5 separate regions of the Homo sapiens genome follow, and regions 1, 3, 4 and 5 are each linked to region 2. The links come from fine-mapping of genetic effects on gene expression. A gene starts in region 2. Each other region holds a variant in brackets. All regions are shown on one strand. Distances are between the middles of the regions. Region 1 overlaps PIK3R6 (phosphoinositide-3-kinase regulatory subunit 6). Region 2 holds the start of STX8 (syntaxin 8). Region 3 overlaps STX8 (syntaxin 8). Region 4 overlaps STX8 (syntaxin 8). Region 5 overlaps STX8 (syntaxin 8).

Evidence for each region. PIP is the estimated chance that this variant, and not a neighbour inherited with it, causes the effect. A credible set is the group of variants that fine-mapping cannot tell apart.
Region 1: its variant is the best candidate, but not a certain one, in a credible set for the expression of STX8 in visceral fat (GTEx, PIP 0.90).
Region 3: its variant is the best candidate, but not a certain one, in a credible set for the expression of STX8 in sun-exposed skin (GTEx, PIP 0.88).
Region 4: its variant is the best candidate, but not a certain one, in a credible set for the expression of STX8 in whole blood (INTERVAL, PIP 0.56).
Region 5: its variant is the best candidate, but not a certain one, in a credible set for the expression of STX8 in whole blood (INTERVAL, PIP 0.71).

What each region holds. Positions count from the first base shown.
Region 1 is chr17:8,828,488-8,833,487 of GRCh38, reverse strand. PIK3R6 (phosphoinositide-3-kinase regulatory subunit 6) reads left to right here. Exons shown (of 20, transcript NM_001010855.4): 9 at 443-599; 10 at 3,696-3,782; 11 at 4,498-4,921. Among named protein-coding and RNA genes, the nearest start is that of MFSD6L, 32 kb to the right of the region's middle. RefSeq lists enhancers at 188-267, 4,302-5,000. The variant G/A (reference allele first, on the strand shown) is at 2,549.
Region 2 is chr17:9,572,909-9,577,908 of GRCh38, reverse strand. It overlaps STX8 (syntaxin 8), which reads left to right and starts at 2,089. Exons shown (of 8, transcript NM_004853.3): 1 at 2,089-2,117. The coding sequence starts at 2,101. CFAP52 (cilia and flagella associated protein 52) reads right to left here and starts at 1,267. Exons shown (of 14, transcript NM_145054.5): 1 at 1,144-1,267. The coding sequence starts at 1,213. RefSeq lists enhancers at 1,005-1,134, 1,927-2,106.
Region 3 is chr17:9,428,968-9,433,967 of GRCh38, reverse strand. All of the region lies in intron 6 of STX8 (syntaxin 8), which reads left to right. Among named protein-coding and RNA genes, the nearest start is that of STX8, 140 kb to the left of the region's middle. The variant C/T (reference allele first, on the strand shown) is at 2,876.
Region 4 is chr17:9,389,467-9,394,466 of GRCh38, reverse strand. All of the region lies in intron 6 of STX8 (syntaxin 8), which reads left to right. Among named protein-coding and RNA genes, the nearest start is that of STX8, 180 kb to the left of the region's middle. The variant G/A (reference allele first, on the strand shown) is at 2,475.
Region 5 is chr17:9,436,253-9,441,252 of GRCh38, reverse strand. The region is part of intron 6 of STX8 (syntaxin 8); the gene reads left to right. Among named protein-coding and RNA genes, the nearest start is that of STX8, 140 kb to the left of the region's middle. The variant G/T (reference allele first, on the strand shown) is at 2,288.

The DNA.
Region 1 (5,000 bases), 740 kb after region 2:
GTATCCCAGCCCCTAGAACAACACCTGGTGCAGTGAGCTATTCTAAGTGCTGGAGATGCAGCTATGAATGAAACAGACAAAATTCCCTGTGAATTCCTGGAATTCACAATCTAGTGGGGGCTAGAACATTGATCCAAGTGCTGGGTGACGCTTTCAGGAAGTGGGCGTCAGTGGCTATCTCTGCCTCTCTGGGTAACAGACATTGCAGACCAGTAGTCTCCCCATAATAGCGTGTGAGGGGCAGAGGGGAACCCCCACTTGCAGGGCAGGCATAGGGCCCTGGATGTGGGATCCAGAAGCCTTCGGGGGAAGCTCCTGCCGGGCCCCCAGGGGCAGCGGAGAGGTGTCACCTTGGGCTGCCAGGGCCCTGCGGACTTGGCTTAGGAGCTGGGGTGCGTGGGCGCTGGGCCAAGACCCAGGCTCTGACGCCCCTCCCCAACAGGCCAGCCCTCGCCGCACCCTGGAGCACTATTTCCACGCCGTGGTGGCCGCCTTGGAGCAGATGGCCAGCGAGGCCAGCCCGAGCCGGGAGGGACACGTAGAGAGGCTGGAGGAGATTTACTGCTCGCTGCTGGGTCCCGCGGCGGGGCGCTGCGGTGGTAAGCGACTGGCAGATGGGGGGCCTTGGCAAGAGTCCCGCGGGGGCAGCTCACTGCACAGCAGGGGGCGCCAGAGAGCAGCGCTGGACCTGCCTCTGTCTGGGTGCCTGGCCGACTCCCAGGAGCCTGGGGACTGGGGGCAGCCTGGGGGTTTGGCAGGACCGGGACTAAGAGGCGGGTAATTAGGCTGGGAGCGGTGGCTCACGCCTGTTAACCCAGCATTTTGGGAGGCCGAGGCAGGCGGATCACCTGAGGTCAGGGTTTCGAGACCAGCCTAGGCAACATGGGGAAACCCTCTACTAAAGTAGTAGAGGGTTTAGTCTCAAAAAAAAAAAAAAATCAGCTGGGCGTGGTGGTGGGCACCTGCAGTCCCAGCTACTCGGGATGCTGAGTTAGGAGAATCACTTGAACCAGGGAGGCGGAGGTTGCAGTGAGCCGAGATCACACTACTGTACTCCAGCCTGGGCGACAGAGCGAGACTCCGTCTCAAAAAAAAAAAAAAAAAAAAAAAAAGAAGGTGGGTAATTTGGTCATGATAACCGCCGATGCCCACAGAGCCCCTACTATACTCCAGTTGCTGTTCTAATCACCTTACATATATTTAAATATATTGCGTATACTGTATTAAATCAATGAAACCTCACAGTCAACTTATAAGCAGAAACTATTATTATCCCCATTTTACAGAGGACGAAACTGAGTTAGAAAGAGGTTAAATATCTTGCCCAAGATCACCCAAGGCAGTAAATGGCAAAGCCAAGATACAAATCCAGGCTGTCTAGTTCACTACTCAGCTGCAGTAATCCAAGGATTTGATCGTCCAAGGACCAGAGCATCTAAAAGAGCAGATGAGTCAACATCGTTTATATCTGGTATCATAGATTTTTATTCCTCACCCTTCCTATTTGCATATTTATAAGATAACGCCTTATCTTATGCAAGGCATAATGTAGGTAAGATAATGCCTACCCTGACACAAGCCCCATGTGGATGGGGGCATCTGAAATAGCCCAGAGAAACGTCCCGAATATGTGTTTCCTGGCTGTTGTAGGATGGTTCTGATTTGGGTCCTATTTCGTGGTCATTCAAAGTATCATGGAATATGTCAGCCTGCATGTCCCAGATATGCACAGTCACTGATCGTGCACCTGTCATTATAAGGCATGGGGTTAAGGACTGGAATCCACCGGAAGAGGTTAGTGTGCCAGGCCCTGGGTTTGAACTTGGCAGCCCAGGTTGGGTGGAGGCCACAGCAGTTGGGTGAGGTGGGCAGGATAGTCCCTGCCTAAAGACTCCATCTTCGAAGTTGTCCGCTCTTTTACTTTAACATTCTACACTGCCTCTGATCCCACATGGAAAAAGCTCCTCCTGTACCCCAAGCTGGGACTAACCCTGGGGCCAATCTGGCTTTGCTCCCCTTGTGGCCCCTTGCTAACACTCACCAGTGACTCTGCATGGATTAATTAAGACCATCTGGGCCACCCCCAAGACACATCCAAGGGCACCTGTCTCCTGCCCAGACTTGCCCTGTGCCTTTTTTTTTTTTTTTTTTTTTTTTTTAGACAGGGTCTTGCTCTGTCACCCAGGCTGGAGTGCAGTGGCTCGATCATGGCTCACTGCAGCCTTGACCTCCTGGGCTTAAGCGATCCTCCCACCTCAGCCTTTCGACTAGCTGGGACCACAGGCACGTGCCACCACACCTGGCTAAGCCCTGTGCATCTTTTTTTTTTTTTTTTTTTTTTTGAGACACAATCTTGCTCAGTCACCCAGGCTGGAGTGCAGTGGCTCAATCTCCGCTCACTGCAAGCTCTGCCTCCTGGGTTCACGCCATTCTCCTGCCTCAGCCTCCCGAGTAGCTGGGACTACAGGCGCCTGCCACCATGCCCAGCTAATTTTTTTGTGTTTTTTTAGTAGAGACGGGGTTTCACCGTGTTAGCCAGGATGGTTGC[G/A]ATCTCCTGACCTCGTGATCCACCCTCCTCGGCGTCCCAAAGTGCTGGGATTACAGGCATGAGCCACCGTGCCCGGCCAAGCCCTGTGCATCTTAATGACCAGGCAGCACCCCCGTCAAGCCCCTGTGGCTGTAGGGGGCAGTATGGAGTGGTGATTATAAGCACAGTGTTGTGGGTAAGAGCAGGAACTCTGGAGCTGAGCTGCCTGGGCTCAAGTCGTCACTGTACTATTTACTATGTGACCTTGGGCCAGTTATTCAACCTCTCTGTGTCCTGGCTTCTCCCCTGTAAATTGAGGATAATAATGTCACCTGTTGCCCAGGGCCATTGGCAGGATCCAGAGAAATGATTACAGTGTGTGCCAGGTGAGTAGAATAAGGCCTGGCAGGCAGTAGGTGCTCAGTGAACACTAGCTGCTCTCCCCTAAGAAGCTTGCAGCCTCATGAGTGGGGAGCCACAGCAATATAGAAGTGAAACGGGAATACGGAGCCAAATCCTAAGACCACATGTGAGGTGTGCCCAGTGTGCAGACAGTCTGCTCGGAGGGAATGACCACCGCGGGCCACTGGAGTGGTCAGAAAAGATTCTAGAAAGAGAAGCAGGAAGAAGGGCTGTCCTTTGTCTCTCCCCTGGACTGCCCGGGGTTCCTGCTGCCCCCAAACTTTGTTGATGAGTTCTCGTCAGCATCGCCGACAGCTGCAAATGTTAACTGAGTGTCTACTGCATGCAAGATATTGGAAGCAGCCCTGAGAAGGGCAGGGGTCTTTCCTGCCTCGTCTGGATGCAGGCAGGGCATTTTAAGAACAGTGGGAAAGCCAGTCTGGCAGCTGCACAGGGCTGAAGGCATGGCCAGCATAGGAGCATAGGTTGGAAAAGGCCTTGTGAGCTGGTTTGTGAAGACCCCCTAAGGGTTGAGCTAGGTTTGAGAAAACGTAGCTACTAAGCATTGTTGGACAGGGAGGGGACAGCTGCACTGTTGGGCCCTGGATGGGCTGGTGGTGGCAGAGATGGAAAGGCAGACCAGATGTGAAGGAGAGAGTCCCTGCCACCTCTCTAAGACCCCGCACAGGAGCTGGGCAGGATGGGGAGGGCAGAGGAGGGTCCCATGGCCTCCTCCATGGCCTCCACAGCCTGCTCCTTTCTGCAGGTGACCTTGTCCAAGAGCGGCCACCAAGCATTCCCCTGCCCAGCCCCTACATCACCTTCCACTTGTGGACCGGTGAGGAGCAGCTCTGTACGTGCCCATGGAGCTGTCTGGAAACAGTGGTATATGTCTGTGTCTGTGTGTGTATGCGTGCATGAGTGTGTGTCAGTGTGCATGCGTGTGTCAGTGTGTGTATGCATGAGTGTGTGTCAGTGTGTCTGTGTGTGTATGTGTGCATGAGTGTGTGTCTGTGTGCATGCGTGTGTCAGTGTGTGTGTATGCATGAGTGTGTGTCAGTGTGTGTGTATGCGTGCATGAGTGTGTGTCAGTGTATGTGTGTGGATGCGTGTCAGTGTGTGTATCCATGAGTGTGTCAGTGTGTCTGTGTGTATGTGTGCATGCGTGTGTGTCAGTGTGTGTATCCATGCATGTGTGTGTGTCAGTGTGTCTGTGTGTGCTTGCATGGGTGTATGCGTGCATGCGTGTGTCAGTGTGTGTGTATGCATGATGCGTGTGTGTGTCAGTGTGTCTGTGTGTGTATGCGTGCATGCATGTGTTTCAGTGTGTCTCTGTGTGTGTGTCTGTGTGTGTGCACGTGTGTGTATGTCTGTCTGTGTCTGTACATGTGTATGTGTGTGCATCTGTGTGTCTCTGTGTGTGAGTCTCTGTGCATGTTCATATGTGTGTCTTTATGTGTCTGTCTGTGTTTCTGTGTGTGTGTATCCTCTGAAGAGGACTGGCTGAAATCAGAAACGTAGCCCTGCCAGCCTCACGTGTCCTCACCGCCCTTGTTCCCCCACCCCAGGGAAGGAACTGGTGCTCTTCCTCCGCCCAAGATCCCAGCTGCGCCTCAGTGCTGACTTGGAGGTCTTGGATCTGCAGGGCCTCCGGCCGGACCGGGAGTTGGCCCGGGTTTCTGTGCTGTCCACTGACAGCGGCATTGAGCGGGACCTTCCCACGGGGGCTGATGAGCTGCCTGCACCCGGCAGCCCTGAGATGGAGCGAGCCGGGCTGCAGCGCAAAGGGGGCATCAAGAAGCGTGCATGGCCCCTGGACTTCTTGATGCCTGGCAGCTGGGACGGGCCCCCAGGGCTGCACCGGAGGACAGGCCGGCCCAGTGGGGATGGGGAAATGCTGCCCGGCGTGTCCCGGCTGCACACAGCCCGGGTACTTGTGCTCGGAGATGACAGGATGCTGGGGCGCCTGGCCCAGGCCTACCACAGACTCAGGTGGGGCCCCGACGTGGGGGCTGGGGGTGGGCGCTGGTCAGGGGCACAGGTGGGCCTGGCGTGGGCTGGTGAAGGATCA
Region 2 (5,000 bases):
TGTTGGACAGGATGGTCTCGAACTCCTGACCTCAGGTGATCTACCTGCCTTGGCCTCCCAAAGCGCTGGGATTACAGGCATGAGCCACTGCCCCCGGCCTCAGTTGCAGAGTTCTATGTGTGTGGTTCTACATTGGCTCAACAAGTGACATTATGCAACCCACTGTAGGCTGCTCAATTGTTTCTCAATGATCTTGTAACCAACTCTCAAGATATCTGATATCCGAAATGTATAAAGCACTCACTTTCTATTGGAGACTGTTAAAGTTAAACCAAGAGTCAAGAGCTAAGTCCTAGAGTATGCTTAAAACTTTAGACAGTGATTGTTCTGCATCCACATTCTTAAAGCTTTCAGGCATCACAACACACATTTTTGAAAAGTTTTGCTTCTCCTAAAATCTAATTCATTGTTTTCTCATCCCTCAAAAAACCAAAACCCCTCAAAACGAACAATAAAACCCCACAGCTTTTTCTTCCCAGAATCTTCAAAACAATAGGCAGTCACAAATAAGATTTCAGCGGAGCGGCCCAGTCCCTTTTTCTCTCCGCTTTAGCTCCCCCTGGCGTCCCCTTCCCCTTCTGTCCTGGTCTGAAATCCTCATCATTTAGAAACCTTCCTTAGGATTAGAGGACCAACAACATCCCCTCAGGGGGTTGCTCAAACACACGTTCCCTCCCAGCCCTTTCTCACTGGTACGCCAGTTGGGATTTTAGCAGATTTCCTAGCTGGTCCCAGGGGCCGACACAGACAGCATCCTTCTGTGTGGTTACGAAGGAGCCTAGGGCTTTGCGAGCGGCGTGGGGTTCAGAGCCAGGAAGGGCTGACCTAGTGGGAGAAGGGTTACAACCACCCGTACTCATCCGGCCCGCCTGGGGAAGAGGCATTTGGTCCCTTTTAGGTGCTGGCGCTTGTCCGAGCTGGTAAAAACCATCTCACTCCCTGAGGCTTGGATCGAGGAAGTGACTCTCCAAGGCCTTGGGGCAGGTCAGGCTGTGCGGGTCCTCCTGTGCGTGTCCCTGGCCAGGGCTCCTGCCGTTGTCCCACACTGCCTTTCAGGTGTCCCCGGTGTCTCACTATTCCTGTTTGCACTACACGTCCTCCGAATTCCTAAACCAGCCAGCCCAAAGATGCTGGAGGCCTCACCATTGAAGCCGATCACGGCGTCAAGTTCCAGCTCCGCCACTTGGGCCTCCGGCGAAATTTTGTTATCCATCCTTGGGAGGTTCTGATTACTTTGCTCTCCTCCCTAGTGGCTGCAGCGTCTTCTGGTCGTTATGGTAACGGACGAGCGCATGCGCTCCAGCTCCACGCCCGCGCAGAAACCCAGCCTGCCGAGTTCGAGTTCATTAGCATTCTTGGAAATGAAGGGGTATGGGGACTGGAAGAGAGATGGGGTGGGACTCCTCTTCTTTTTTTTTGTGCTATTTCTCTGGAAATTTAGGGGATGGCACTAACTGCGCAGAACTAATTCCTCCATCCCCTTGTGTAGAGTCTGTGACTTCTTAGTAACTCTAAAATCAAGCACCGAATGAATGGCATTTAAAAAATATGTAATCAGGCGTACAGGACTGATAGGAAGGCTGCTATAAAAAATATATATAATTGATACTTCTTTGGGCCCCTGTTTGGAGCAGTGTGAAAAAAATTTTAAAGATTTTTTAAAAAGCGTTGAGGTATAATTTACATATCATAAAGTTAACTTAAAGTAGGTTGTAGTGAGTTTACGCAGCGTGCAAGTCTCACCGCAATCTAGTGTTTTGTTTATTGTTTTGTTTTTGAAGCAGGATAAATTTTTAAGTAACTGCTACAGAGAGGTCTTGCAGCGCTCCCACCTTCCTGGGAAAATGCTTTGTTTCTATTTAACAATTTTAACTGAGCTTAGCAGTTCGCGTCTCTTGGTGGGAGTAGATTGCTCCAGTGTACTGTCCGCAGGGGAGCGCTTTGCTTTCTCTGATTATAGTTCTGAGGCCCTAGCTACTCACTTTGCAAACTCCAGGCTCCGGTCGCGCACGGGACGAACTGCGGGGAGTGAGCCGCGCGGGCCGCCGTAGTCAGCTGCTAAGAGCAGGAAGAGTCCGAGCGGCGGGCGGAGTCTGCAGGATGGCACCGGACCCCTGGTGAGTCCCGGGTGAGGGCGGCGGTGCGTGGAGGGACCTTCGGGGAGGCCGGGCTTCCGGAGAGCAGGCAATCACTTCGCATTGCCGCTGGTGGCCTTTCGGGATGAGGGGAGGGGCAGCGAGACCTTTCCTTTACTGAGGGGGCTCAGCCACATCCCGCCACACTTGGTCCTTGCAAGGGTGGCCCGGGAAGGAGACCAGGTGGTCCGCTGGAGAGCTGAGGACTTACGCCAAATCTCTGAATATTCCTTTAGCTTTTCTGGGCTGCATCTCGTTGCGGGGATTTCCCGCCCATCCTGGTTTTGGAGCTAGCTGGCTGGTGCAGGCTTCCCTGGACTCCTATAAAAGTGAAGTCGAAATAACGTTTTTGTAGCATGTCAGTCCATCCCGGTAAACCCCCTTATTTCACAGGTGGAGAAACCGAGGTTCAGAATCCATGGCCACCAGCCAGTTAGTAACCAGCTGGGGCTAAGACCTAGATCTTGGGGGCCCTTCCAGATACAGGAACCTGGGAGGGAAATTGTGCACTTGTTTATAAGGCATTTTGCACTTTCTTGAGTTAATATCATGAAGTCTTTTCCTTTAGCAGTAGCTTCTGCAGTAAAACAATAGCTGATAAGGGTGATTTATTTAGCAGTTAATCCCAAGGACTGCATGATGAAAGATGCAACTTTTGATCCCAAGGAACATATTGTTTGATCCCAAGGAACGTATTGTTATTGAACATAGACTTGACCTTTCTGCTTAATAATTAAAAACATATTACAGCTCTATAACGTTCTTGTTGGAATATGTGTCTTATGTTGTTATTTCTAATATAGTTTATAATTGTTTAAGTTGCCCACATCCTGGATATTAGAAGAATGGATTCCAAGAACAAAGTTGAGTTACCTGGAATCTAGGTTATTTGGGCCAATTATTTAATTTAGCATTTACTTTTTTAAACCTAATTTTAGGCCGGACGCGGTGGTGGCTCACGCCTGTAATCCCAGTACTTTGGGAGGCCGAGGCAGGCAGATCACCTGAGGTCGGGAGGTCGAGACCAGCCTGACCAACATGGAGAAACCCCGTCTCTACTAAAAATACAAAATTAGCCGGGCATGGTAGTACATGCCTGTAATCCCAGCTACTCGGGAGACTGAGGCAGGAGAATCGCTTGAACCCGGGAGGTGTAGGTTGTGGTGAGCTGAGATCGTGCCATTGCACTCCAGCCTGGGCAACACGAGCGAAACTCCGTCTCAAAAAAAAATAAAAAACCCCAAAATCCCTAATTTTAACAGTTATATACACCCCTTGATAGAGAATATTCAATTTAGAGAATATTGAAAATTTGCAAAAAGGAAAATAAATAGCATCTTTAACTCTATAATTTGGAAATAGCCATTAATGATTTTTTTACAATGAATTTGTTATTTTAATCTATATTTTTATATATATATATAATATAAACAGCATTTCTCTATGTCATTGGACATTCTTTGAAAGCATAACTTTCTTTTCTTCTTTTTTTTTTTTTTGAGACGGAGTCTTGCTCTGTCTGTCACCCAGGCTGGAGTGCAATGGCGCGATCATGGCTCACTGCAACCTCCACCTCCTGGGCTTAAGCAACTCTCCTGCCTCAGCCTCTGGAGTAGCTGGGACTACAGGCGCACGCAGCCACGCCCAGCTAATTTTTTGTATTTTAGTAGAGACAGGGTTTTACCGTGTTGCCTAGGCTGATCTTGAACTCCTGAGCTCAGGCAATCTGCCCGCCTTGGCCTCCCAAAGTGCTGGGATTACAGGTGTGAGCCACCGCACCTGGCCTCATAATTGTCTTATGTTGCAAAATAATGCATCACATGAATGACCATAATTTATTTTTCTCCTATTAGTTTTTTGTTTTTCTGATGTTTTGTTTTGTTTTATCATTGCAAAGGGAGTCCCTTTGTTCTATCTCTTATTTCCTTGGGCTCCCTGTCTAGAAGTAGGAATTAGAACTGTTGAAAGTGAAGCATTTATACTTTTTTTGTTATTCTCAATCAGTTTGACTAAGTGGCTTTCTCATTAGACTGTTGAAAGTGAAATAGAACTGTTGGGCTCAAGGGTATAAACATTTTTAAGGCCCTTGATACTGTGAACCCCAAAGTATCTGAGACAGGTCTCAGTCAATTTAGAAAGTTTATTTTGCCAAGGTTAAGAATGCACCCATGACACAGCCTCAGGAGGTTCTGAAGACCTGTGCCCAAGGTGGTTGGGGAACAGCTTGCTTTTATACAATTTAGGGAGAATAATACATGAATTAATACATGTAAGATTTATGATGGCTCAATCCAGAAGGGAGGGACACCTCGAAGGGCGTGGGGGGCTTCCAGGTCATAAGTAGATTGAAAAATTTTCTGATTGGCAATTGGTTGAGTTATTATCAATAGAAACGAATGTCTGGGTTATGATAAGGGGTAGTGGAGACCAAGATTTTATTATGCAAATGAAGCCTCTGGGTAGCAGGCTTTAGAGAGAATACATTGTAAGTGTTTCTTATCAGACTTAAGGTCTGTATTGACGTTAATGCTGGTTGGCTTTTCCTGAATTCCAAAAAGGAGGAGAGGATATATAATGAGGCATGTCTGATCCCCTCTTCCCATCATGGCCTGAACCAGTGTTTCAGGTTAACTTTGGAATGCCCTTGCCTTAGAGTAGGGGTCCGTTCAGATGGTTGCGGGGGTGGGGGGGGGTGTTGGGGGTGGGCTTAGAATTTTATTTTGGTTTACAATACATATTCCTAAGTTGCCCTCCACCTTCTGGAACCTAAATCCCTCAGTTTACAAATCAAGTAGGAAATAAAGGTCAAAGATAAGGGACAGGCCCCCAGTTATCTATTTAGATTGGTGGAAGCTATCACTGGAC
Region 3 (5,000 bases), 140 kb after region 2:
TCTCTTCTGTAGCTGCACTGACTACAGCAATCCATCTCACCACTCCTTACCTTCTTCTGTGCTGTTCTCCTTGCTTATGATGCTCAAGAAGAGCATCTTTCTTACCTAAAAGACACACACAACCGTAGTTCAAATATCATCTTCCCCATTAAACTCTTCCTCACTTTCCTAGGAAGAGTTGGCCCATTTCTCTGGGTCCTCACAATACTCTGTGGAGCAGCTAGAGTTTTCACTCTTTTGGATTCCCACCCTCCCTTCCCCCGTTTTAATATCTGTGACCCCCTGAAGTACTCTGTGTATTCCTTAAGAGAAGGGGCCACATTTTTTCCCATTCTTTTTTCCCCCACATACAAAAAATGGTAATATTTAATGCCTACAACATGATGAGTTTGGAGATAGGTGTACATCCATGAAACCATCATCACAATCTATGGAGGAGGAACTTCTTATCTCCAGTAGGGCCAATAGGTAGTTTTTGACTGAATGAAAGAATGAATGGATGCTTTTCATGAGTGATATTGTGGGCCGAAGAGATTGAGAAAAGCTTATAGTGATGAAGGATCTTTGATTTCATCCCAAACCACTAATTGAGCATCTGTGCAATGCAAGTGCTCACGACAAAGCTATGAAGTGGAAATTACTATTTCCGTTTTGCTGATTTTGAAACTAAAGACTTGGGTTATTTGGTTAAGACCGTCTAGCTCATCATAAGTGAAGGAGACGTGATTTGAACCCACACTGGCCTGGGGTCCAGGCGTATGCCTTGTCTTCCACATCAAAACGCTAGTGTCAAAGAATAAATCTTAGGAGTGCATTATGACGATGGTGATTTTGAGATTATAAAGCATTTGGGAGCTCACAAAGGAAGCCTGTGGTTTTGTAGAGGACTAGAACTATTTTCACAACTGGTTTCCCTGACTGCATCCATATCTGTGTGGCCTTAATATTGTTTGACTCACAAAGGAAACTTGTTGATCCAGAGTGAACCAGTTCAACTTTCTTCTCCTCAATCTCAAGAGTATTCCATGGAGGAAAATGTTCTAAACTGCACCTGAGCTATAAACAATTTACTCTGAAGGTAACAGTGTTAGTATTCCAGTACGTAAACCTTTAGCTAATAACAATCAAAGTAGCCTAATTTGGAAAGTACACAGAAGGTTAGAGGGAAAGCTTGTAAATGTTTTCAAAGACTCTGTATTTAATTCTATCACCAGCTAGCAAAATAAATAGGCCAGCTGCTAGCTCTGAAACAGACACGTGGTGGAAATGAAATGTTAATAGTTGAAATGCCTTGCTCATTCGAAACCAAAAGGAACATGAAGTACACTTTCTAGTTTATGAGAGACAAGGTGAAAGTTCCCAAAACACATTTGTGGTGACTGCATTTAAAATTGCTTCCTCATCTTTTATTTTAGTGGCTAATACTTTAGTGTGGCCTATGTGTGACTAGAGGGCATTTTTTTTTTCTTCCGATTTAGATGGAAGGTTTGGAAATAAATGGAGAGTGGAAATCGGGAGATGTTAAATTCTACTTTTCCATGTGTCTAAGTTGTTTGCTCTAGTTTGTAAGCTGCAGGCCAGACTTTTCTGAGGAATGGGAGGTTACTTTCAATAATGTGCTAAGATTGACCTGAGATATTTAGCCAGCACATCTGCTTGCAAGCTCTGGCCGTATGTGAGGAGCTTATACTGGAATTAATTAACTCTGTTTGGTATTCTGAAATGTTTGCTCCACATCTTGTTTTACCATCACAAAACTTACAAAATCAATTGGAACTTTTTTATTTTTACTTAAGAACTTAAAAAAAAAAGCCAGGTGAAAAAGAGAATCTGAAAAGCAGTTGTTTTCCTGCTTGAAGCAAACTTTCAAGAACGAGCATTAGAATCAGAATTTATTTTTTCAAATACTTCTTTTTAACTTAAAATGATGGTGAAGTGTAACTCTTTCATCCATTACATTAATGCCATTTTTGAAATGTTTGATTTTATTAGAAAACAAGGAGATTGAAGTGAGAGGGGTATCCTGTATGCTGAGATAGTCACAGCATTACAAAATGTTTTATGAACCAAAATGTTGTCCTAGGAACACTCTGACTTCAGAAAGGAAAAGGAAGGGAGGTTTCTGGGAAAGCTCTGCAAGCATAGCCTTGACCTGTATTTGGAGACAGTACAGCACTCGTGGTCTTAACACCATGATGTTAATGTCAGAACGTTTGGCACTATGTTGTTGCTAACCTGCTGTTCTTAAACAAGTGAGCCTTACCTTGTTACTTTTCTCAGTTAGTAAAATTGGGAAGAGGACTACCTTCTAGAATTCAGCCACAGCACCAGTGTCATGACTGTGTTCTCTCTTCCTTTAAACCTGCTGCCCTTGGCCAGCCGCGGTGGCTCACGCCTGTAATCCCAGCACTTTCAGAGGCCGAGGCAGGTGGATCACAAGGTCAAGAGATCGAGACCATCCTGGCCAACATGGTGAAACCCCATCTCTACTAAAAAACAAAAAAACAAAAAAAACAAAACAACAACAACAACAACAACAAAAACCCTGCTACCCAATGAGATGCTCAGCAACTCATAATTTATTAAAAAATGAGCCAAAGGCCAGGCGCAGTGGCTCACACCTGTAATCCCAGCACTTTGGGAGGCCGAGGCAGGTGGATCACGAGGTCAGGAGATCGAGACCATCCTGGCCAACATGGTGATACCCCATCTCTACTAAAAAAAAAAACAGAAAAATAAAACAACAACAACAAAAATGCTACTACCCAATGAGATGCTCAGCAACTCATGGTTTATTAAAAAACAAGCCAAAGGCTGGGCGCAGTGGCTTACACCTGTAATCCCAGCACTTTGGGAGACCAAGGCAGGTGGATCA[C/T]GAGGTCAGGAGATGGAGACCATCCTGGCCAACATGGTGAAACCCCATCTCTACTAAAAAAAAACCAAAACAACAACAACAAAAAAACCCCTGCTACCCAATGAGATGCTCAGCAACTCATGATTTATTAAAAAACAAGCCAAAGGCCGGGGGCAGTGGCTCACGCCTGTAATCCCAGCACTTTGGGAGGCCGAGGCGGGTGGATCACGAGGTCAGGAGATTGAGACCATCCTGGCTAACATGGTGAAATCCCGTCTCTACTAAAAATACAAAAAATTAGCCAGGCATGGTGGCGGTCGCCTGTAGTCCCAGCTACTTGGGAGGTTGAGGCAGGAGAATCACTTGAGCCTGGGAGGCAGAGGTTGCAGTGAGCCAAGATCACGCCACTGCACTCCATCCTGGGCAACAGAGCGAGACTCTGTCTCAAAAAAAAAAAAAAAAAAGCCAAAACCACTGAGCCCAACTGTCCGTCAACAGATGAATGTGTAAACAAGTTGTAGTATGTACTTAAAATGGTCTATTATTCAGCCATAAAAAGAATGAAGTTTTGATATATGCGATTACATATATGAACCTGGAAGACATTCAGTGAAATAAGCCAGATACAAAAAGACAAATATTGTATGATTTCACTTATATGGAATATCTAGGATAGGCAAATTCACAGAGAAAGAAAGTAGATTAGAGGTTACCGAGGCTAGGGGCAGGGGGAAATGGGGAATTATTACATAATGGTTAGAGTTGCTGTTTGAGATAATTTTAAAGTTTTGGAAATAGATAAGTGGTGGTGGTTATACCACACTGTTAGTGTAATTAATGCCACAGAATTATATACTTTAAAATGGCAAATTGTTTTATATATAATATATATTTTATTTATATATAAATTATATATAATTTATATTTTATTTATATATAAATTATATATATTTTATATTTTATATATAAATTATATATATTTTATATTTATATTTATTTATATATAAAATATATATATTATATAGAATATATATATTATATAGAATATATATATTATATAGAATATATATATTCTATAGAATATATTATATATAATATATAATATATAATATATATATTATATATAATATATTCTATATAATATATAATATATATATTATATATAATATATTCTATATAATATATATTATATATATTATATATAATATATAATATATTATATATAATATATTCTATATAATATATAATATATATAATATATATTATATATTATATATAATATATATAATATATAATATATAAAATATATATGTTATATATAATATATAAAATATATATGTTATATATAATATATAAAATATAATATATATAATATATAATATAATATAAAATATATAATATATATTTTTTTGAGATGGAGTCTTGCACTGTCGCCCAGGCTGGAGTGCAGTGACGCGATCTCAGCTCACTGCAAGCTCCGCCTCCTGGGTTCACGCCATTCTCCTGCCTCAGCCTCCCGAGTAGCTGGGACTACAGGTGCCCGCCACCACGCCCGGCTAATTTTTTGTACCTTTAGTAGAGATGGGGTTTCACCGTGTTAGCCAGGATGGTCTTGATCTCCTGACCTCATGATCCGCCTGCCTAGGCCTCCCAAAGTGCTGGGATTACAGGTGTGTGAGCCACCGTGCCTGGCCTATTTACATATATTTATATATTTATAATATATAAATATATGTTATATATAAATATTTATTATATATTATATATAAATATATGTATATAAAATATATAATAAAAATATATAAATAATGTATTTATATATTTTATATATAATATATAAAACAAAATGTGCCATTTTGCCATTTTAGATATATATATCTCAAAACAATTTTAAAAAATTAATAGTATAACATTCCAAAAACTATGTAATTATACAGTTTAAATGGGTAAATTTGTGGCAGGTGAATTATGTCTCAATAAAACTGTTTTAAAAACCCCACTGAGTATATAGTAAGGGATTGGGATGTTCTGGTTAACTGAATCTTCTGGGTAATTAAGGATTAATATGTTTGCACTGAAACTGACCAAGTCAAAGGTACCCTTTCATGAAATATGGGGCTATGAACTTGAAAAACATGTTTTGTGC
Region 4 (5,000 bases), 180 kb after region 2:
GGCAGAGGTTGCAGTGAGCCAAGATGGTGTCACTGCACTCCAGCCTGGGCAATAGAGTGAGACTTAGTCTCAAAAAAAAAAATGAATTTAAATAAATAAATAAATAATATGAGCTTTTGGTAATACACTAGTCCAGACTTGGCTGTTTTCCCATTCCCACACTTTGACATGTATACATTCCTGCAATTCAGACACTTTGCTCTCTCTCCCCATCCCTCCCACATCCAAAGCCGCGCTTAGCATGGTTGACACTGACTGCCCAGTAGCCCATCCAGTAGACATGGCAAATTCCACACTCCCTTCCTTGCGGCGCTGCCCTCTGTGACAACAGTGTGGGTTTTTTCTTTGTTTTGTTTTTGTTTTTGTTTTTGCCACTTGCTTTGCTTCTATTGTTTTTCCTCCTCTTGTTCTTTACATACTGTGTTCTCTTAGATTCTACCTTTACCTGTATCTCTCTTGTATATTTTTAAATTTTAATTCTTAAATTAACACAAAACAAAATTGACTGTGTTTGTTGTTCTGTGAATTTTTACACATGTGTAGGTTTGTTTAGCCACTACACAAATGGGACCCAGAACCATTCCATTGCTCCAGAAACTTCCTTGTGTTTCTTTTGTAAACCGACCATACTCTCACCCATTCCTAACTCCTGACAACCACTGACTGACCTGTCCTCTGTCACTAAACTTTTGTCTTTGGGATAATGTCATATAAATTGTATCATATATATGAACTTCTTAGTACCGCTTTTTTATTTTTCTATTTTGTTATTTACTGTAGCTTTTTGTATAGATTGTTTTAGTGGTAACTAGGGATGACAATATACATACTTAAAAATTTACAGTCTACTTAGAATCAGTATCTAATCTTTTCACATGGAGTGTATCAACCTTACACCCTATAGGCCCATTTGCCTACCCTGCTCTATGGTATATAATTGTCTTATGTATTATACTTACGTGCATTGAAGATCAGACAGTATGAGTTTGGTTTTCATCCACCAAACAGAGAAGTCAGCTGGAGAATATTTATCCAAATGTTTACCATTTCTGCTGTTCATCCTTCGTTTCAGGTTTCCTACTGGTATCGTTTTTCTTCTGTCTGAAGAACTTCCTTTAGCTGTTCTCTTAGAGTAGATCTGTTGACAACATATTTTCTTAGTACTTCTTCGTCTAGAGTATCTTTATTTCACCTCGGTGCTGAAGGATAGTTTTGCTGGTTATAGAATTTTGTGTTGATAGCTCTTTTCTTTCAGCACTTTAAAACTGGTGCTATACTTCCTTCTGGCCTCTGATTTTTGATGAGAAATCCAGTCTTTGAAATTTTTGTTCCCCTATAAAGCAATGTGTTGTTTTTCTTTGGTTGTGTTCAATTATTTTTTTCTTTGTCTTTAGTGTTCAGCAATTTGGATATGATGTGTTGTGGCCTGGACTTCTTTGTGTTTATCTTGTTTGGGGTTTGCTGAGCTTCTCAAATATGTAGGTGTATGTTCTTTGCCAAATTTAGAAAACTTTCAACCATTATTTGTTCACGTATTTTTTCTGGCCCACACTCTTTTTTCTCTCTTCTGAGACTCCAGTGGCATGAATGTTTGACTTTTTCCCATTATCCCATAGGTCCTTGAGGCTCTATTCATTTTTATTGGAACTATCTTCCAGTTCACCACCTCTTTCCTGTATCATGTCCATTCTGCTATTGATCCCATCCAGTGAGTTTTCAAATTTGGTTATTGTGTTTTTCAGTTTCAAAAGTTGCATTTGGTTCTTCTCTATATTTTTTGTTTCTTTGCTGAGACTATATTTCAAGAGTGTTCACCATTACTTCTTGGAGCATTTTTATTTTTATTTACTTTGTATTTTTGAAACAGGGTCTCACTCTGTCATCCAGGCTGAAGTGTAGTGGTGCAGTCACAGCTCACTGCAGCCTCAACCTCCTGGGCTCAAGTGATTCTCCTTTCTTAGCCTGCTGAGAAGCTGAAACTACAGATGCATGCCACTATGCCCAGCTAATTTTTTATTTTTTGTAGAGACAGGTTCTCACTATGTTGTCCAGACTGATCTTGAACTCCTGGGCTCAAACAATCATCACGATTCAGCTCCCAAAAATGCCTGGCCCAGCATTTTTATTATAGCTGCTTTAAAGTCTTTGTCAGATAACTCCAACAACTATGCTTCTTAGCAATGGCATCTTGTTGTCTTTTCCCAGGTTTCTTATGCAACTTGAAATTTTCCGGATGTTCATATGCTGCAAAATTTTGCGTTGTATCCTGGACATTTTGATTATTATTTTATGAGACTCTGGCTGTTGGTTTAAATCCTACAGAGATGTTGATATTTTTTATTTTAGCAGGCAATTGCCCTGGTTGAGTTGAGGCCACAGGTTCCAACTACCATTGAAGAAGTTTTCAAAGTCTTTCCAGTACTGTTTGGGTCTGTCCCACAGGTGCAGTAGCCAGTGACCAGACTGGGAGTTGG[G/A]TGGTTTTCTCTCCTGTAGTTCAGCTCTCAATGTCTACGTATACTATTTGGGGTCAGCTCCGTGTATGCACTTCTCAAAGGAGAATCCAGGACTTCATGAACAACTTTAAGGGGTTGCTTTTCTAAGCTCCTCCCAGTCTGTGATCTTCCTGGTGCATTTTGGCTCCTGAGGCTCCCTTTTTATTTCTCCAGTGTGAAATCTAGGACTTTAGTTACCCTACTCTGCCATATGCTTCCCATCTATATAGCAATATGGTTTCCTTTTTTTTTTTCTCTCTCTCTTTTTCTGTAACCCAATCTAAGTCTGTGGCTTTTTTTTTTCCCTCATCTTTTTATTTTAAAGGTTTTTCTAAAGCTACAGAAAAGTTAACAGTATATTCTTCAGGCATATCTGGTCACCCTTCATTTACTAGATTCACCAGTTGTTAACGTTTAGCCACATTTGTTTTGCTTTTTTGTTGCTGCATGAGTGTGTGTGTGTATTTATGTACCTTTTCCCCCCAGAGCGAATTATTATTATTTAATATTTTTAAATTCTTTTGAGATGGAGTCTTGCTGTGATGTCCAGGCTGGAGTGCAATGGCATGATCTCCGCTCACTGCAACCTCCACTTCCCAGGTTCAAGCAATTCTCCTGCCTCAGCCTCCCAAGTAACTGGGACTACAGGCATGCACCACCATGTCTGGCTAATTTTTGTGTTTTTAGTAGACAGGGTTTCACCATGTTGGCCGGGCTGGTCTCGAACTCCTGACCTCAAGTGATCCACCAGCCTCTACCACCCAAAGTGCTGAGATTACAAGTTGTGAACCACCGAGCCCAGCCTGTGAATGGTTTGAAGTAAGGTGAGGGTGTCTCGTAATGCTTCTATATACTTTGGCATCTGTTCCTAATCTATCTCCTAATATTCTTCTGTGTAGGTTGTTTTCCTATATAACTGCAGTGTCATTAGCATATCCAAGAAACTTAACTTTGATATGGTAATAATGACTAATATGGAGTTTCTATTTAAATTGCTGCCATTGCCCCAATAAAGTTTTGTCACTTTTTTTTGAGGGGGTGCTCCAGCAATCAGATTACAGATTGCGTTTAACTGTTTTGCCTCTTTAATGTCTTTTAATTTAAAATATCTCCCCCTTCTTTTTTTTTTTTTTTTTTTGAGACGGAGTCTCGCTCTGTCGCCCAGGCTGGAGTGCAATGGCGCGATCTCGGCTCACTGCAACCTCCACCTCCCGGGTTCAAGTGATTCTCCTGCCTCAGCCTCCCGAGTAGCTGGGACTACAGGTGCCCACCACCATGCCTGGCTAATTTTTTTTTTTTTTTTGTATTTTTAGTAGAGACAGGGTTTCACTACGTTGGCCAGGCTGGTCTCAAACTCCTGACCTCGTGATCCACCTGCCACAGCCTCCCAAAGTGCTGGGATTACAGGCATGAGCCACCGCACCGACCCTGTGTTACACTTTTTTTTTTTTTGAGACGGAGTTTCGCTCTTGCTGTCCAGGCCGTAGTGCAATGGCGCGATCTCAGCTCACTGCAACCTCTGCCTCCCAGGTTCAAGTGATTCTTCTGTCTCAGCCTCCTGAGTAGCTGGGATTACAGACAACCACCACCACGCCCAGGTAATTTTTGTATATTTAGTAGAGACGGGGTTTCATCAGATTGGTCAGGCTGGTCTTCAACTCCTGATCTCAGGTGATCCGCCCACCTCAGCCTCCCAAAGTGCTGGGATTACAGGCCTGAGCCACTGCGTCCAGACTCCTGTTACACATTTTTAAGCCTAGATGAGAGACCATGGTTTATGGTCAAGAGGAAGTCGGAAAGGAGCCTGTGTTTTTTGCCTAACCTGGCCCATCTGGCTGTGTATAAGGTGTGAGCGAGTGTGGCCAAGGGGAATTTCTGCCAGGCAAAGGAGCTTTCCCTGTGTCCCCAAAGCCTGGGTGGTTCCCAGAGGCTCCACTTTGATCTGCGGGAGTTCCTTGCAGCTCCCTGCCATAGGATGCCATAGGCAAAGCATTACCTTTCCTTTAAGAAGTCACAGATTGGTTTTTCCTTGTGTCCCTGTTCTCTGGAATGTATCTTTTCCTAGTGTACGGTATTATCAGAGGTCACCACCACCCCCCATTTTTGGTTTCCATTGATAAATTTGAGTATGATATCAATTATAGGGAACGGAGGGAATTAAACTAATACCCTCAAGAAAAACTCTATCTTCACTATAGATTTTTTTTAACATTTGTCTTCAAATATTATTAAGAACATAAGCAAAAAGCATAATAACATAATGACTTTACTACTGCCATTATGAGTCCGTTATGAGTATAAAAAGGCACCAAATGTATCTGAAAATATATAGCAAACTCTCTCCCTATATATAGAATGTATTGAGGCTGTAATTGAGAGTAGAAAAATGATGAAGTATTATTGGAGTCGGGTATTTTGACATCATATAATATTTCTTAATCCTTGTGATGCTGTCATTTTGTGGTATACTTTACGTTGTTCCATTTTGTCCATTCTGTGCTGGAATGT
Region 5 (5,000 bases), 140 kb after region 2:
CCCAAAGTGCTGGGATTACAGGTGTGAGCCACCGTGCCCAGCCGTATTTGACTAAATTTCTAAAGGTCCTGTCTCATTTTAATCTTTTTGCATTATGTTGTATTCATCTTAGCATTTGCCCCTTCATACTCAGGATTAGTAATTATTTGAGTACATCTTCACGCCTCTCATTTGGCCTGAGTTTGAAATGTTAACTCCAGTTTGGAGGTGATGAAGGAAGCATGTGAGAAAGGATGAGGCACAGGAGTGGAGTCAACCCCTGGGAGCTGGAGATGGAGAGGAGGCCAGCCATGGTGAAGCGAAGGAGGAGTGGGTGATAGCTTTGGGGAAACTGAAATGCTTGTAGGATATGGAGCCGGCATTTCAAGTGTTGGGAAATTACTGAAGACTGTTCAAAATGACAGTAACTGTGGTTTAAAAAAAAATCAGGCTGGATGCGGTGGCTCACGCCTGTAATCCCAGCACTTTGGGAGGCCGAGGCGGGTGGATCACCTTAGGTCAGGAGTTTGAGACCAGCCTGGCCAACATGGCAAAACCCTGTCTCTACTAAAAATACAAAAATTAGCTGAGCGTGGTGGTCCACGCCTGCAATCCCAGCTACTCAGGAGGCTGAGGTGGGAGAATCGCTTGAACCCAGGAGGCGGAGGTTGCAGTGAGCCGAGATCGCACCACTGCACTCCACCCTGGGTGACAGAGCGAGACTCCGTCTCAAAAAAAAAAAAAAAAATCATTGATTCACTATGATTGTATTGGGCAATAATGTGAAACATCATGGACGTCATTGACCAATGGAGATAACTGCAGTAAATTGGGGGTGAAGTGTTAACTAAGATGGTGACAATGAGAATGAAAAGCAGGGGACACATTTGAGAGGGATTATAAAGGAGGAATCGGCAGGTTTGGGGGATGGATCTGAAGGGAAATCCAAGTGGAAGGGATGAATCAGAGAGGATTCCCAGCCTTTGAGCACATATAACTAGGTAGGTAATGGTACTAATAACAAATCTCCAAATTTTAGAGTTAGGAAATATGTTTCAAATCATCCGATTCCATGTTTCTTAAATAGGCTGTAAGGGAGTATCCAGATTGGAAACCATTATAGAAATAATTGTCAACTCTTCTTTATGACTTCCTTCCTTTTGCCCTTTTCCCAGTGGTATTTTCCATGGTTCTGGAAATGACCTACTTTATGCCACCACTATATTTAGGCTGCAAATTTCCCCTGTCCATCCTGACCAAGGTTTGAACAATCCCATGTGGAGAGGAACTTAATTGCAGAATACCCTTTGCCATGCGTCTTTTTATTTTCCCTATATGCCGGGGGTACTTTTGGGGTGAGAATTGAAAAGGAAAAAATGGTAATGTGTGGGAATGTGTTCCAGCTCCAGACTTCCTCCTCACCCCACCAGGAAGCAGTATTGATGGTGCTTTCCTGATTAAAAAATTGCAAAATTTGGCCAGGTGCAGTGGCTCACTCACGCCTGTAATCCCAGCACTTTGAGAGGCCGAGGCAGGCAGATCACAAGGTCAGCAGATTGAGACCATCCTGGCCAACATGGTGAAACCCCATCTCTACTAAAAAGACAAAAATTAGCTGGGCATGGTGGCACGCACCTGTAGTCCCAGCTGCTCGGGAGGCTGAGGCAGGAGAATCACTTGAACCTGGGAGGCAGAGGTTGCAGTGAGCCAAGATCACACCACCGCAAAAAAAAAAAAAAAATTATATGGCAGTAAGTACAGTAGTGATCATAACAATTAGTTATTATAGTGTGGAGAAGATATGACTATTGAAGATATAAGTAAATTTTGCAAACTGATATCAATTTTTTAATTGTTTACAAATGTCCAGCCACATTGTATGCTGCTACATTAAAATAAGTGTTTTGTTAGGCATTGGTCTTCACCAAAACAAATGCTATGTTCAAATCATGAGAAATAATGGTCTTGCTCTGCTCAGTACTGTTAAAAATTCATCTGTTTTGTTTGATTCAGTTATGCATGCTGCATTAATGAACTGGAATACCTTATCTAGAATTGGGACCAGGCCCAGGTGAAACCAGCAAATGATATCATGTGAAGTGCCAGAGTATAGAGCTAGGATCAGCAAGCTATGGTTTATCCCGTTTTTGTACAGGTCATGAGCCAAGAATGGCATTTATATTTTTAAATGGTTGAAAAAAAATCAAAAGCTATTTTGTGACACATGAAAATTATATGAAATCCAAACCTTAGTGTCCATAAAACTTTTTGTAAAAGCAAAACAAACAAAAACCAGCCATGTTTGTTT[G/T]ACTATGGTTTTTTTTGTTGTTGTTTTTTGTTTTTTTGAGATGGAGTCTCGCTCTGTCACCTAGGCTGGAGTGCAGTGGCGTGATCTCAGCTCACTGCAAGCTCCGCCTCCCGGGTTCATGCTGTTCTCCTGCCTCAGCCTCCTGAGTAGCTGGGACTACAGGCGCCACCACCACCGCCCGGCTAATTTTTTGTATTTTTAATAGAGACGGGGGTTTCACCGTGTTAGCCAGGATGGTCTCGATCTCCTGACCTTGTGATCCACCTGCCTCGGCCTCCCAAAGTGCTGGGATTACAGACGTGAGCCACCACGCCCGGCTGTTTGACTGTGTGTTATGTATGGTTGCTTTTGCACCGCAACAGCAGTTTTGAGTAGTTGCAACAGAGACGTATGGCCTACAAAACCTAAAATATTTACCACCTGGCCCATTGCAGAAAATGTTTACCAACCACTGGTCTAAAGCCGTGTTTCCCAAACCTTAGTGTGCCAATGAATTACCTGGGGATCTTGTTAAAAGACAGATACTGGTTCAGGAGGGCCAAGGTGGGACCTGAGAGTCAGCACTTCTGACCAGCTCTCAGACGATGCCAGAGTTGCTGGTCCTTGGCGCACACTTGCATTTATACGATATTTAAGAGGTGGGTGGGGGAGGGGGGTAGTGTGTTGTAGAGGAGAGATGATCAAATGTTTTACAGTAGAAATGGCCTTTTTTTTTTTTTTTTTTTGAGATGGAGTCTCACTCTCACCCAGGCTGGAGTACAGTGGCACAATCTCGGCTCACTGCAACCTCCGCCTCCCGGGTTCAAGCAATTCTTCTGCCTCAGCCTTCTGAGTAGCTGGGACAACAGGTGTGTGCCACCATGCCTGGCTAATTTTTTGTATTTTTAGAGTTGGGGTTTCACCATGTTGGCCAGGCTGGTCTCAAACTCCTGACCTCGTGATCTGCCCACCTCGGCCTCCCAAAGTACTGGGATTACAGGCATGAGCCCACCGCACCCAGCGAGAAATGGGCTTTTTATACCTTATTTCAAAGGCCAGAATAAGTACCAGTTGATTCCAGCTCTGCTTTTTACCTTAGGAAGAACTTTCTAATGATTGAAATTCATCATGGAATCACTGCAATGGCCGCAAACAGAGGCGTCTAAGAGACTGGGAAAGTGGCCGGCCTGGTGAGATCTCCAGCTTAATTTCTTTGACTGACAAAGAAAAGGCAAAGTGAGAGTATGAATTAGCAAGCCAGACACTGAATTGCTTATAGATATAAGGCCTAGCCTAGCAGGGACAGTATTAATTGAACTAATCTCTTAAATGGCACAACTGCTGGTTTACGTTTGTACCAGGAATAAGTAACTATTGAGGCCTAACATGAAATCAACTCATAAAGAGTAAATGTGTAGCTGTAGGTTTATAATTTAATTTGTACTGACTGAAAAAGCTACAGTTGTCAGACGTCTGCAATTTCATTTTTTCACTCATGAGCCAGTTAAAAGATAATCCCTGCCATTGTTACTCTTCGCTTGTGTCCATTTCATGCACATCCCCTCCCTGAAAGCTGTTGTATCAGCCTTATGAATGGATGTATATTTGTAGGTGGATCTTCCAGCTGCAAGTCATTGTAGCCCTGACGAGTGAATCCTCTTGTTAATGGCTCCTTTAAGCAGTACTTTTGGTGGGGAAAGAAAAGAGAGAAAGAAACTAGCCATTTTGAGCAAGCCAATCAATGTTGGAGACCAGAGCGCATTTAGACAGATGATCGAGTAATGGAATATTTAAGCAACGCGATATTTGCTATTGATGAATACTTTTAAAACCATAAACCTCATTAAATTAATAGTACAACTGTCTGCTCAAAATTCAGTGAGTGCTTATAGTCGTGGTTTCATTGTATTTCTCCACTTTGAACGCTTTTCATTTCAGCTTGTCACAGGCTTTTAAAGGCATGATTTATGCTTCATAATACCCTAAGGAGGTTAAGTATTTTCATATTTATTGCACAGAAGAGTATTTTGTGATTGCTTGCCTGTCCTAAAATCAGCTTGGCTGGAAAAGGACCTAAGAATTCTGACCTCAGCTCTGTATCCAAACCAGGAGTCAGCGTTTGAAAAATGTGAGTCAATATCTTGCCCAGAGAGTTTGTTTCATTCCACTAACCTGGGGCAAGAACAGATGGTGGGAGGCAGCAGACAAACAATGCTGCTTTTTATTTTGTAAATCTGCCTAGATCCCTACATCCCAGAGCTGGGCCACATTGATACAGGCCAAACATCTTTCAGCTCTTTCAGATGTTTTCAGCCAGCTCTTTCAGATGTTTTCAGCCAGCTCTTCATCATCCACCATGTTATGTTGATCGTGGTCGTAATTGTTATCCTGAATGATTAAAACCCAAGTAGGTCAAAGTGTCTGTGATCTGTCCGAAGCGTGTTGGCCATCTTACCCTCACCAGTATTTTTGTGTATTGATATTTTTCAAAATCAGAATCATTTTAGATGCCCAGAGACCCTAGTGTACTTTCCCCATTCTACGTGCCCACTTCTGACTTGCCTTTCATGGAGTCTTTGGGTTTATTATGGTTATCTCTCTTTTGGCAAGTCAAAGGTAGGGTACTTTTTTTTTTTTTTTGCGATGGAGGCTTGCTCTGTTGCGCCCAAGCTGGAGCGCAGTGGCACGATCTCAACTCACTGCAAGCTCCGCCTCCCGGGTTCATGCCATTCTC